Regions from separate parts of the Homo sapiens genome. Here region 1 is linked to region 2. The links come from fine-mapping of genetic effects on gene expression. Tissue or cell type: lymphoblastoid cells. Region 2 holds a variant in brackets; the other region holds the start of a gene. All regions are shown on one strand. Distances are from middle to middle.

What was found. PIP is the estimated chance that this variant, and not a neighbour inherited with it, causes the effect. A credible set is the group of variants that fine-mapping cannot tell apart.
Region 1: LINC02328 starts here. The variant in region 2 is the best candidate, but not a certain one, in a credible set for the expression of LINC02328 in lymphoblastoid cells (GTEx, PIP 0.66).

What each region holds. Positions count from the first base shown.
Region 1 is chr14:85,931,331-85,936,719 of GRCh38, forward strand. It overlaps LINC02328 (long intergenic non-protein coding RNA 2328), which reads left to right and starts at 3,348. Exons shown (of 4, transcript NR_110155.1): 1 at 3,348-3,531. RefSeq lists enhancers at 2,833-2,882, 3,253-3,462.
Region 2 is chr14:85,942,906-85,948,294 of GRCh38, forward strand. The region is part of intron 1 of LINC02328 (long intergenic non-protein coding RNA 2328); the gene reads left to right. Among named protein-coding and RNA genes, the nearest start is that of LINC02328, 11 kb to the left of the region's middle. The variant G/A (reference allele first, on the strand shown) is at 2,848.

The sequences.
Region 1 (5,389 bases), 12 kb before region 2:
TCCAAGATCTATCTGTCTTCTGCACAGGTCAAATAAGAGTTGAACAGGGATGTGGTGGAAATCACCATCCCTGCATCTTTTATGTCTTTGATGGTGGTACTAATCTCTGCAATCCCTCCAGAGATGCGATATTGCTTTTGATTTACTATTTTTCTAGGTAGAGGCAGCTGTAATGGCTTCCATTTGGCCTTTTTCTATCCTAATAGGCTTCATCCTACCTGTCAGGGAGCCAATGTGGGGGGTTTTTCCAGCTGCTAAGTGTATCTATGCCAATTATGCATTCTGGCATTGGGGAAATGACCACAGGATGAGTCCAGGGACCCGCTAGACCCACCATAAATTGGACCTGAGCTAAAACCCCATTAATTACCTGACATCCGTAAGCCCCTACTTTAACTGGAGGACCACAATGACGTTTTGGGTTCCCTGGAATCAACGTCAGCTCAGGCCAGTGTACAGTAGTCCCCAAAATGTCTGATCATTTCCCTTTCCCCAATGCACAATTACCCTGGTAAAAGGCCAGATGTCTCTTTGGGGAAGGATGGGAGAAAGATTCACAGCATAAATTGTAAGTAATGTAGTGGGGTTCTTTCTCAAGGGGACCTGGCCTCATCTTCATTTAAGGGGTTCTGGGTCTGTAAACTGGCTCAAGACTGGAAATTGATTGAGGGGCCATGATTCTCTGTTTTTATAATTCAAATTAGTCTTTTGTCCATTCGACCTAGAAGTTTTCTGCTTGTATAAATTAAGCAAAAATGCAGTAGGCTTCCTATTAATTTCACTTCTAGGAACACCATTATTAATTAGCCAATGCCAGAGCTCTACACAAATCAGACTGTTCTGATCGTCACTTTGCCTCTGCTGTCCATTACAGTAGCTATGCCCACCTTGCCTTTGATGGTTGAGTGCCACCACTTGGTCCCTGCCACCTCGGGATCCAATTATTCCCATTGTATTTAAATTTTGTATTGAGTGACTACGGTTCCCACTGTTAGATCTGACATACAGAGAAGGGCAATTACAGGTCTCTTCAAAGATGTAGGTGCTGCCCTCACAAATCTATTTCCCAAGGCATTGATCAAGGGTATATCTTCTGGACCCTGCCAGCTGGGATGAGTAGGTCTAAAGTGAATAATCCACTGTACCATCCCAATCTTCCTAAGCCTTTGGATCCCTTCCTCTACATTAAACCAAAGGAGATCAGGCATTTCTAGCTCACTCGTAGTAGGCCATCTTTTAATCTATATTTTAGCTAAACAAGCAAATAAACTATTAGAACCTTTTTTAACTCCCCCAGCTGAAACATTAAATGAACAATCCCTACTTAGTGGGCCCAAATCAATAAATTCAGCCTGATCCAACTCTATGTTCCTTCAACCATTATCCCACACCCTTAATATCCATTCCCATGCCTGTTCTCCAGATTTCTGTTTAAACTCAAGCAATTCTTTTTGGGTGTAGAACATCTCATGGGTCACACTCTCAACCTCACCTCTAGAGGCTCGCCTGGACTTTAGTCTAGTTATAGGTCTAGAAGGAAACAGGGGTGTTGGAGGTGGCTCCTGAAGATAATCAACTTTACCTTGCCTGGAAACTGCCTCAAGGGAGGCCATCACTGTTGCCTCAGGCAGCACAGGGTTTATCTCCTCAGACAAAGGTGGAAAGGCTGATGGCAGTGTGGGTCAGGGAGGGGATATTGTCTCTACTGGGGATGGGGAAGCTGTTTCCTCTGGCCGAAAAGTTTCATCAGAGTTTACAAACTCAGTGTCCCCAGCTTCATTAGGGTCCTCCCACACGTCCCCATTCCAAGTTGCAGGGCCCCATTCTTTTCTAATCAAAGCGCTCACTTTAACAGTGGACACCTGGTGAGGCTGTGCATGCATCTTTCATTACAGGTCAGCCTACATGATAAGGGTTTGTGTCTGTTTTTCCACAATTTCAGCTCTTTCTCTACAGGAAGATAAGACTCTCACTCAGGGCAGTCTTAGCAGATTTGAGGCTCAGTATCTGCTTCTGAGGCCGGGAGATAGAATCCCTGAGTTCATTATTTTCTTTCATCACTTTTTCCACTGAACTTAGGAGCAACCAACCAGCTTCATTATGTTCCTTGGTTCTCCACATATGGTCAAAGGTATTACATGTAGAGTCACTAAAATCCTTGCCTCTCAGGAGCGATGAATCAGGAGTGTCAAATGCATTTATTTTGCATATTTCTCGAACAGTTCATGCCAAGGATTATCAGTGTTCTCCATGCTATTAGAAGTAGAGTTCTTAGCATTTTTGGCGTCTAATATTAAGCAGCCAACACCAGAAATTCCAAAACCAATGAAAGAACTACATCCTTAATATTCTGTTCCTCTAGAAGACCACTTCTGGTACCAACATCTGTATCAGGGTTCTCTAGAGGGAAAGAACTAATGGAACACACATATATACATAAAGGGGAGTTTATTAAGTATTAACTCACACAATCACAAGGTTCCACAATAGGCTGTCTGCAGGCTGAAGAGTAAGAAGAGCCAGTCTGAGTTCCAAAACTGAAGAACTTGGAGTCGGATGTTCCAGGGCAGGAAGCATCCAGCACAAGAGAAAGATGTAGGCTGGGAGACTAGGCCAGTCTCTCTTTTCCATTTTTCTGCCTGCTTATATTCTAGCCACCTGGCAGCTGATTAGATTGTGCCACCCAGATTAAGGGTGGGTCTGCCTTTCCCAGCCCACTAACTCAAATGTTAATCTCCTTTGGGAACACCCTCACAGACACACCCAGGATCAATACTTTGTATCCTTCAATCCAGTCAAATTGACACTCAGTATTAACCATCACATATGTCTTTGCTATTGTGAGTAGTGTGGCAATGTACATACAATAGCATGTGTTTTTTCCAGTATGATGACCTAAATTCCTTTCGTTATATACCCAGTAATGGTGAGGGACTAAGTGGCTAAGTTGGCTGGACTTCCTGGGTCAATAGGGACTTCCCTAAGGGGACTATCCCCTAAACCCAAATAAGTCACAGCTGCAAGCTAAGGGATTTAAACTTCAACCAATCAAAGGGGACTTTCCCCTAAGCCAAAATGAGTCACAGCTGCAAGCTAAGGGATTGAAACTTCAACCAATCATATAGGGAGTTTAAGGTCTAGCTACAGCCTGATGTTTTTAACCAATCAGGCCCATCAACCCACAAGTGGGTTGAAAATAAGCTAATTGTATAGGACAGAAAAAGGAAAAGGGGAGGGGTCATAAGGCGATATAAGCATAAGACACCCAAGCCAGAAACAGCAACCCTTCTGGGTCCCCTTCCACCACGCAGAAGCTTTACTTTCGCTTTCACTTTACTTTTGCTTTCACTTTAACAAATCTTGCAGCCGCACACTCTTTGGGTCCGCCCGTTTCTCTAATCAAGTTGTAACACTCGCTGCTGTGGTCCACAGCTTCATTCCTTGAAGCCCGTGAGACACGAACGCTTCCATTGAGAAAAACCTTCCATCAGAAGAAGACTTCTCGTCTCAGTGGGACTGCTGAGTTGAATGGTACCTCTGTTTTAAGTTCTCTGAAAAGTCTCCAAACTGCTTTTTATAGTGGCTGAACTAATTTTCATTCTCACCAACAGTGTATAAATGTTCCTTTTTCTCTAGACTCGCCAGCATATGTTGTTTTTTGACTGTAGAGTAATAGCCATTGTAACTGGTTTAAGATGATATAGCATTGTGGTTTTGATTTGCATTTCCCTGATGATTAGTGATGACAAGCATTCTTTCATGTTCGTTGGCCGCTTGTATGTCTTCTTTTAAGAAGTGTCTGTACATGTCCTTTGCCCATTTTTTAATGTATTCTGTTTTTTGCTTGTTGTAAGTTCCTTACAGATTCTGGATATTAGGCATTTGTTGGATGCATAGTTTGCAAATATTTTCTCACATTCTGTAGGTTTTCTGTTTACTCTATTGGTAGTTTCTTTTGCTGTGCAGCAGCTCTTTAATTAGGTCCCACTTGTCAATTTTTGTTTTTGCTGCAATTGTTTTTGGGGACTTAGCCAAATTTTCTTTGCCAAGGCCAGTGTTGAGAAGGATATTTCCTAGGATTTTTATAGTTTGAGAGCGTACATTTGAGTCTTTAATTCATCCTCAGTTAATTTTTGTATCTGGTGAAAGGTAGGGATCCAGTTTCAATCTTCTGCATACTAACCAGTTATCCCAGCACCATTTATTGAATAGAGTGTCCTTTCCTTGTTGCTTGTTTTTGTTGGCCTTGTTGAAGATTGGATGGTTGTATAGTCACAGTTTACCTTGTATCTGGGATCTCCTAACCTCCTAAATAATTTTTTAAAAATTTTCATACATTACGGTTAAGTTTTTGTGCTCTAGACTTTTATGGGTTTTGATAAATGCATAATATCATCTATCCACCATTGCAGTATCATACAGAATAGTTTCACCACTCTAGGCAATCTCTTGTGCTTCACCTACTCAAATCTGTGTCTGTGAACCTCTAGAAACCACTGATATCTTTATTTTCTTTATTTTTTCATTTTTAGAGACAGGGTCTTGCTTCGTTTCCCAGTCTGGAGTGCAGTGGCACCATATATATGGCTCACTGCCACCTTTACTTCCTGGGCTCAAAGGATCCTCCTGCCTCAGCCTCCCAAGTAGCTGGGACTACAGGTGTGCACCACCATGCCCAGCTAATTTTTAATTTTTTTTGTAGAGCCAGGGTCTTGCCATCTTGCCCAGGCTGCTTTCAAATGATATCTTTACCCTCTCTATAAGTTTGCTTTTTCCAGAATGTAATATAATCATGCAGTATGCAGCAGTCCTTTCATGCTGGCTTCTTTCATTTAGCAATACACATTTAAGAATCATCTATGTCCTTGTACAGCTTGATAGCTCATTCTTTCCTATCTCTGAATAGTATTTCATTGTATGGATATACCAGAGTTTATTCATTTCTGTGTTGAAGAACATCTTGATAGCTTTCAGTTTTTGGTGATAATTTTATAAAATTCTATAAACATTCATGTGAAAGTTTTCTGTAGTTAAAATTTCTCAAATCATCTAGGTAAATATCTAAGAACCCAGCTGCTGGATTACAAGGTAAAAATATGTTTAGCTTTGTTAGAAACTGCTAAGTTATCCATCAGAGTGGTTGTACCATTCTGCATTTTCTCCGGTGATGAATGAGAGTTCTTGTTGCTCCTCATCCTAACCAGTATTTAGTATTAGCATATTTTGGTTTTTAGCCCTCTTAATACATGTACAATGTTATCTCATTATTATTTTAATTTTTATATACCTAATGACAACCAATGTTGAGCATCTTTACATGTACTTATTTGCCATATATATGGTGGTATCTGTTTAGAACTTTTGCTTACTTTTTAATTGAGTTGTATTT
Region 2 (5,389 bases):
TGATGAAATAAAAGTGTGGCAAAATGTGAGCTAAAGACATTCTTATGGGCCGACATTGCTGTTATTCTGCTGTTAAAGCTAAGAACTCCTGCCTTGATGGATCATCTTTCTACAGATTAAAGTATAGTGTAAAGTCCATTTTTGTGTAGACTAAAGTACATTGTAAACAATAGTATCTGGTGATTGGTAAAGAATAGGCAAAGCCTACTTCAAGCCTTTCTTGAAGAGTGCCAATCATAAAAACAATATAGATACATAAACCATGTGAGCAATTCTAAATACTAATATCCCATGTTACAGTATGTAACATTTTAAACAAGTGCTGTACTTCAATATGATTCATTATACTCACCAAATGCTCTAGATAAATATATGTAAACAGTTTTGCCCATCATTCCTCCAAAATTCTCCTTTCAGCTCAGAGTGCACTGTTTAACAATCAAAGTTCCTCAAAGCATTGCCTTATGAAAAGGTTAGCATCAGCATGACACATTGGGGAAACTGCAAAAGCAACTTTCAATTGCAGCATTTCATTTCAACACACCACAAATTATCGCTCTTTGCTAGGATTTTGAACTGAAGAAAAAAGAAATGTCCAAATACCAAACCTCTAAAATATTTTTGTTTCCTTTGAAATAAGAGGAAGAAAACACTTCCTTGCAACCACTTGAAACAATAATAAGGCAGGTGTAACCATTACAGGGTAAAATTCTTTGTAAAAACTGTCACTAGACACTCAGACTAGGTGTCCTCATGCAGTAACTTGAGAGATCATTGATGCCATTTTTTTAAAGCAACAGCGAAACTTTGGGTCTGACAAACCCCATTCTTTTCTCAAAAATTCAACTGCGTAATAAGATGGCACTGCCTCTATACATCCATTTAATTTCTGCCAAAGGTATCACAAGCAATTTGCTCTCTAATGAAAATCATGAAAGGACTGTGTCTCATTTTGCAGGCAATTTTTAGTAAAAACCACAAGGGACTGGCATACTGGCATCTTATTTTCAGCTGGTAGGATTAGTTTGTTGAAAAAAAATGTAGAATGCTGAGATTGGAGAGTGGACAGAACTAACAGAGCCCTGGAGAGGAAGCCATTGTGCTCAATTATTGTTTGTGGAATGAATGAGTGAATGAATGACCAAACTATGAAAATCCCCAAAAGGATGTTTGCTGCAATGTTTAAATTAAATCCTCAAGTTGATTTTTTTTAAAAAAATATAACCATGAGGGAGATACCAATGAAGTCACAGCTTGTAAGGTATAATTCTCATTTTATGGTGTCAAATGAGATGGCACCAATGGGAAAATCATTCTGTCATTTAATGAATATATATTAAGTCCATACTGGGTTCCAGGAAATGTACTAGGTTTGTGAGGCACATTTAATAACACTACATATATTGCCCTTCCTTCAGAGAGCTGCAGTATAGTGGAAGAGGTAGGCATTCATCAAATAATCTCTTACAAATACCATTAGAACTTGTGATTAGTACTTTGGAAGAACAGTATAGGGAACTGTGGGACTATGAGGGTAGGTGTGGGGTCTGTCATCTGATTGGGGAAGTGGGGAAGAATGCCATCCTTGAATATATGTGCTGGAGCTAATATATGCAGTTTGAAAAGGCATTAACTATAGTAGGGAGTAGGAAGGCTCATTAGTCTGCTTTCATGGTGCTTATAAAGACGTACCTGAAACTGCAAAGAAAAAGAGGTTTAATGGACTTACAGTTCCACATGGCTGGGGAGGACTCACAGTCATGGTGGAAGGCAAGAAGGAACAAGTCGTGTCTTACATGGATGGCAGGAGGCAAAAAGAGAGCTTGTGCAGGGAAACTCCTGTTTTTAAACCATCAGGTCTCGTGAGATTCATTCACTATCATGAGAACAGCACAGGAAAGACCTGCCACCATAATTCAATCACCTCCTACTGGGTTCCACTCATGACACGTGGGAGTTACAATTCAAGATGAGATTTGGGCGGGGACACAGCCAAACCATATTGGAAGGAAAACGAAGATTCCAAGTCCTGAAGTAGGAGTCATTTTGACTTAGAACAAGTACTTTGTTAAGCTGTGTATAGACTGAACATGTCAAATGGAACCAAGTACAGATGCCCAAGAGTGAGGCAGGCCCAGCATGCCCAGGCTCTGCCTCATTGTCTGAAACAGTGAGACAACCTCAGGCAGACCAGAGGCCAAATCACAGTCCTGCACCACACAAGGGAGCCACTGCTGAGACCTAAGCCAGGTACAACTGTGGCCTCCTACACGGAGGATTTTCAAAATTCCACTTTTAATCCTTACCCATCTTCAGAGCTCATGTGTGAACACATTGGTAACTCTTCCATTTTATTTTATTTTATTTTGATGTGAAGTCCTTCTTTTCTCATAGATTTGCTCCATTTTCTCTATTAGATATCCTGAGAATGGCTCAGTGAGATGTCCTCCCACTTGGTCTGATGGAACACACATCAAATATGCAAATCCATCCATGCAATTTCTCTATCTGAGCTTTTATAATTTTCTATGACTTGAGACAACTCCAGCTTCCTTGTTGGGCATTTGAACCCCTAACAATTTGGCCTCAGCCCGTCTCTTCAGTTTTATGTCTGCAACTTGCTCTATGCAATGTGTAATCACATAACAAAAAATTCCTTTGGTTTTCATAAAAACATAATTTCCTCCCCTCATTTGGTGTGTAAATTACATTCTTCCTGATTAACTTAGCTTCCTTACTCGTCTTCCTTGTCCTTGTCTGCTTGATTTCATTTTACTTTTCAGACTTAGCTATCTTGTATCTCCTCCGGAAAACTTCCCCAGTGGCTAAGTAAGCAGATGTGGATTA[G/A]GGATTAGAAACATGGGATTTGGATTGAGGCAAATATGATAGTGAATCCTGGATCTTCCACTTACTATGAAAAAATATTTACCTCAGAGATCATTATAATTGATTTCAACTAGAGTAAGGACAATTGCACCTATATTCTTCAGTGAGAACTCAAGGAGTAACACATTACAAAGCACTTAGCAAGGAACCTGGATATAAAGAATATTTAGGATTATAAATCATGCTGCTATAAAGACACATGCACATGTATGTTTATTGCGGCACTATTCACAATAGCAAAGACTTGGAACCAACCCAAATGTCCAACAATGATAGACTGGATTAAGAAAATGTGGCACATATACACCATGGAATACTATGCAGCCATAAAAAATGATGAGTTCATGTCCTTTGTAGGGACATGAGTGAAGCTGGAAACCATCATTCTCAGCAAACTATCGCAAGGACAAAAAACCAAACACCGCATGTTCTCACTCATAGGTGGAAATTGAACAATGAGAACACATGGACACAGGAAGGGGAACATCACACACCGGGGCCTGTTGTGGGGTGGGGGGAGTGGGGAGGGATAGCATTAGGAGATATACCTAATGCTAGATGACGAGTTAATGGGTGCAGCACACCAACATGGCACATGTGTACATATGTAACAAACCTGCACGTTGTGCACATGCACCCTAAAACTTAAAGTATAATAATAATAAAATAAAAAAAAATTTCATAGTTGGTACTAACAATTATTGCTATTGTTGTTCATCATTGTTGCTGTATAGATGACTATTCTATGGCTCTGATGGAACATTTTTCATGACATTAAGCACAGTAGATTGACAATATATTTTTGCACCCCCATGTTTCACTTCAAACTACAAGATCCTAGGTCACACACCCTGACACATAACAGACTGAAATACAGACATAGATGACGTCTGTTCAGTCTTTGCTGTTCTCTGAACAGCGAATAAACTTTTTCTCCCCCAACTTGATATCCATACTCAGAAAAAGCTCATAACTTCCCAACTCATTAGCTGTGTAGGTGTTAGAATTTCTCCATTAGTGTCAAGGAAATAAAGCCAAATTGAAAGCAATTAGCCAATTGTATTTGGGTAGTTTTTTCCTTTTGGCTCATTTTAAATACAGACAGACTAAATTACCTCTACAGCTTGTCTTTGAAGTGTTGTTGTTTTTTTTTTTCTTTTTTAAATGCACAGATTGTATTTAGGTTATAAATAGAAAAATTGCATCTTTTCAATTTTTAAAAATATGCTGAATTCAATAAAATTATAATGGGTATTTATGAATCCTGGAACAGATAATAAATGCTTTTAGGACAAATTCTTTGGCTAGTATAACATATTAAAAAATAGCTTTTGGTACTAAAAACCTTAAGCCTTTTTTCAACCTTTCTACAAGTCTTCACTAAGCATTGATTCTGTGACATAAGAAACTTAAGAAAACTAAAAGTCATGTATTGACAAAGTATTAAGCCATAGAAGTCAAAAATGTAGACTCAGAGACTGAAATGAAAGCCTTTGATATTTCCTTAGCAAAATTTTGTATATACACTAATGTGTAGCACTAGAAGACTATAAGTGCCAAATTATATATTCCATTTCCTTTGTTAGCTTTATCAGAGATATTTAATTCAGCCCATTTTGGGGTCGCATGTGGGAATGGTTGGTTGGGCTGTGTAGCTCTCTTCCTAGGGGTAGAGTACGTATCTCTCTTCCTCACCAATAAGTATCAACTGCACAATTATTTAGCCATCATTGCCCTTTATGAGAGGGAAAACCTTTTTAAATATTTTTCTGTCACTCATGATTTGAACTGTGGTTTTAATGGATTTTTATTCAGGTTGCTGATGGGTTTTCCAGTGCTATTATGACAGAAACGAGAAGAATGCATTTGTGTGTGTGTGTGTGTGTGTGTATGTGTGTGTCAAGAAGCAAATGACTTTTAGCTGGAAAGAAGTGGAGTCTGAGGAAGATATCTAAAGGAAGAGCACATGAATATCAGGATTTTTCTAGCAGAAAGATGGTCTCAGAGAAAGGACGCTTTATAAAAGAACCTGGCAATAGAGAAAAAAAAAATCTGCTGCAAAAACCATTGTTTTACTGATGAACAGCTTTGTGGAATAAATCTTCTAAGACATTCACTGTCAATCTCTCATTTGTCAAAACACTGTGCCAACCTCCCCCACAGCCCCCTTAAGCCTGTCTCCTAGACAATAGGCCAATGCCATGAGAATTTGCTCTGTGACCCAGTTTCTCTGAGTGAGGCTCATCTATAGTTTATTCTTGAGAAACTAACTGTAAGATCAAAACGACCTCTGAGCACTTAGTGGGGTAGAAGAGAGGAGATTCTGTGTCAAATCTGACTGTGTATGACCCAGCACCTACAACTGAGACGGTGGGGAATGGACACTCCTGATGCATACTTGGTCAGTTACAAATCGTTGTATTAGTCTGTTCTCACATTGCCATAAATAAATACCTGAGACTAATCATTTATTAGAAAAAGACGTTTAACTGGCTCACGGTTA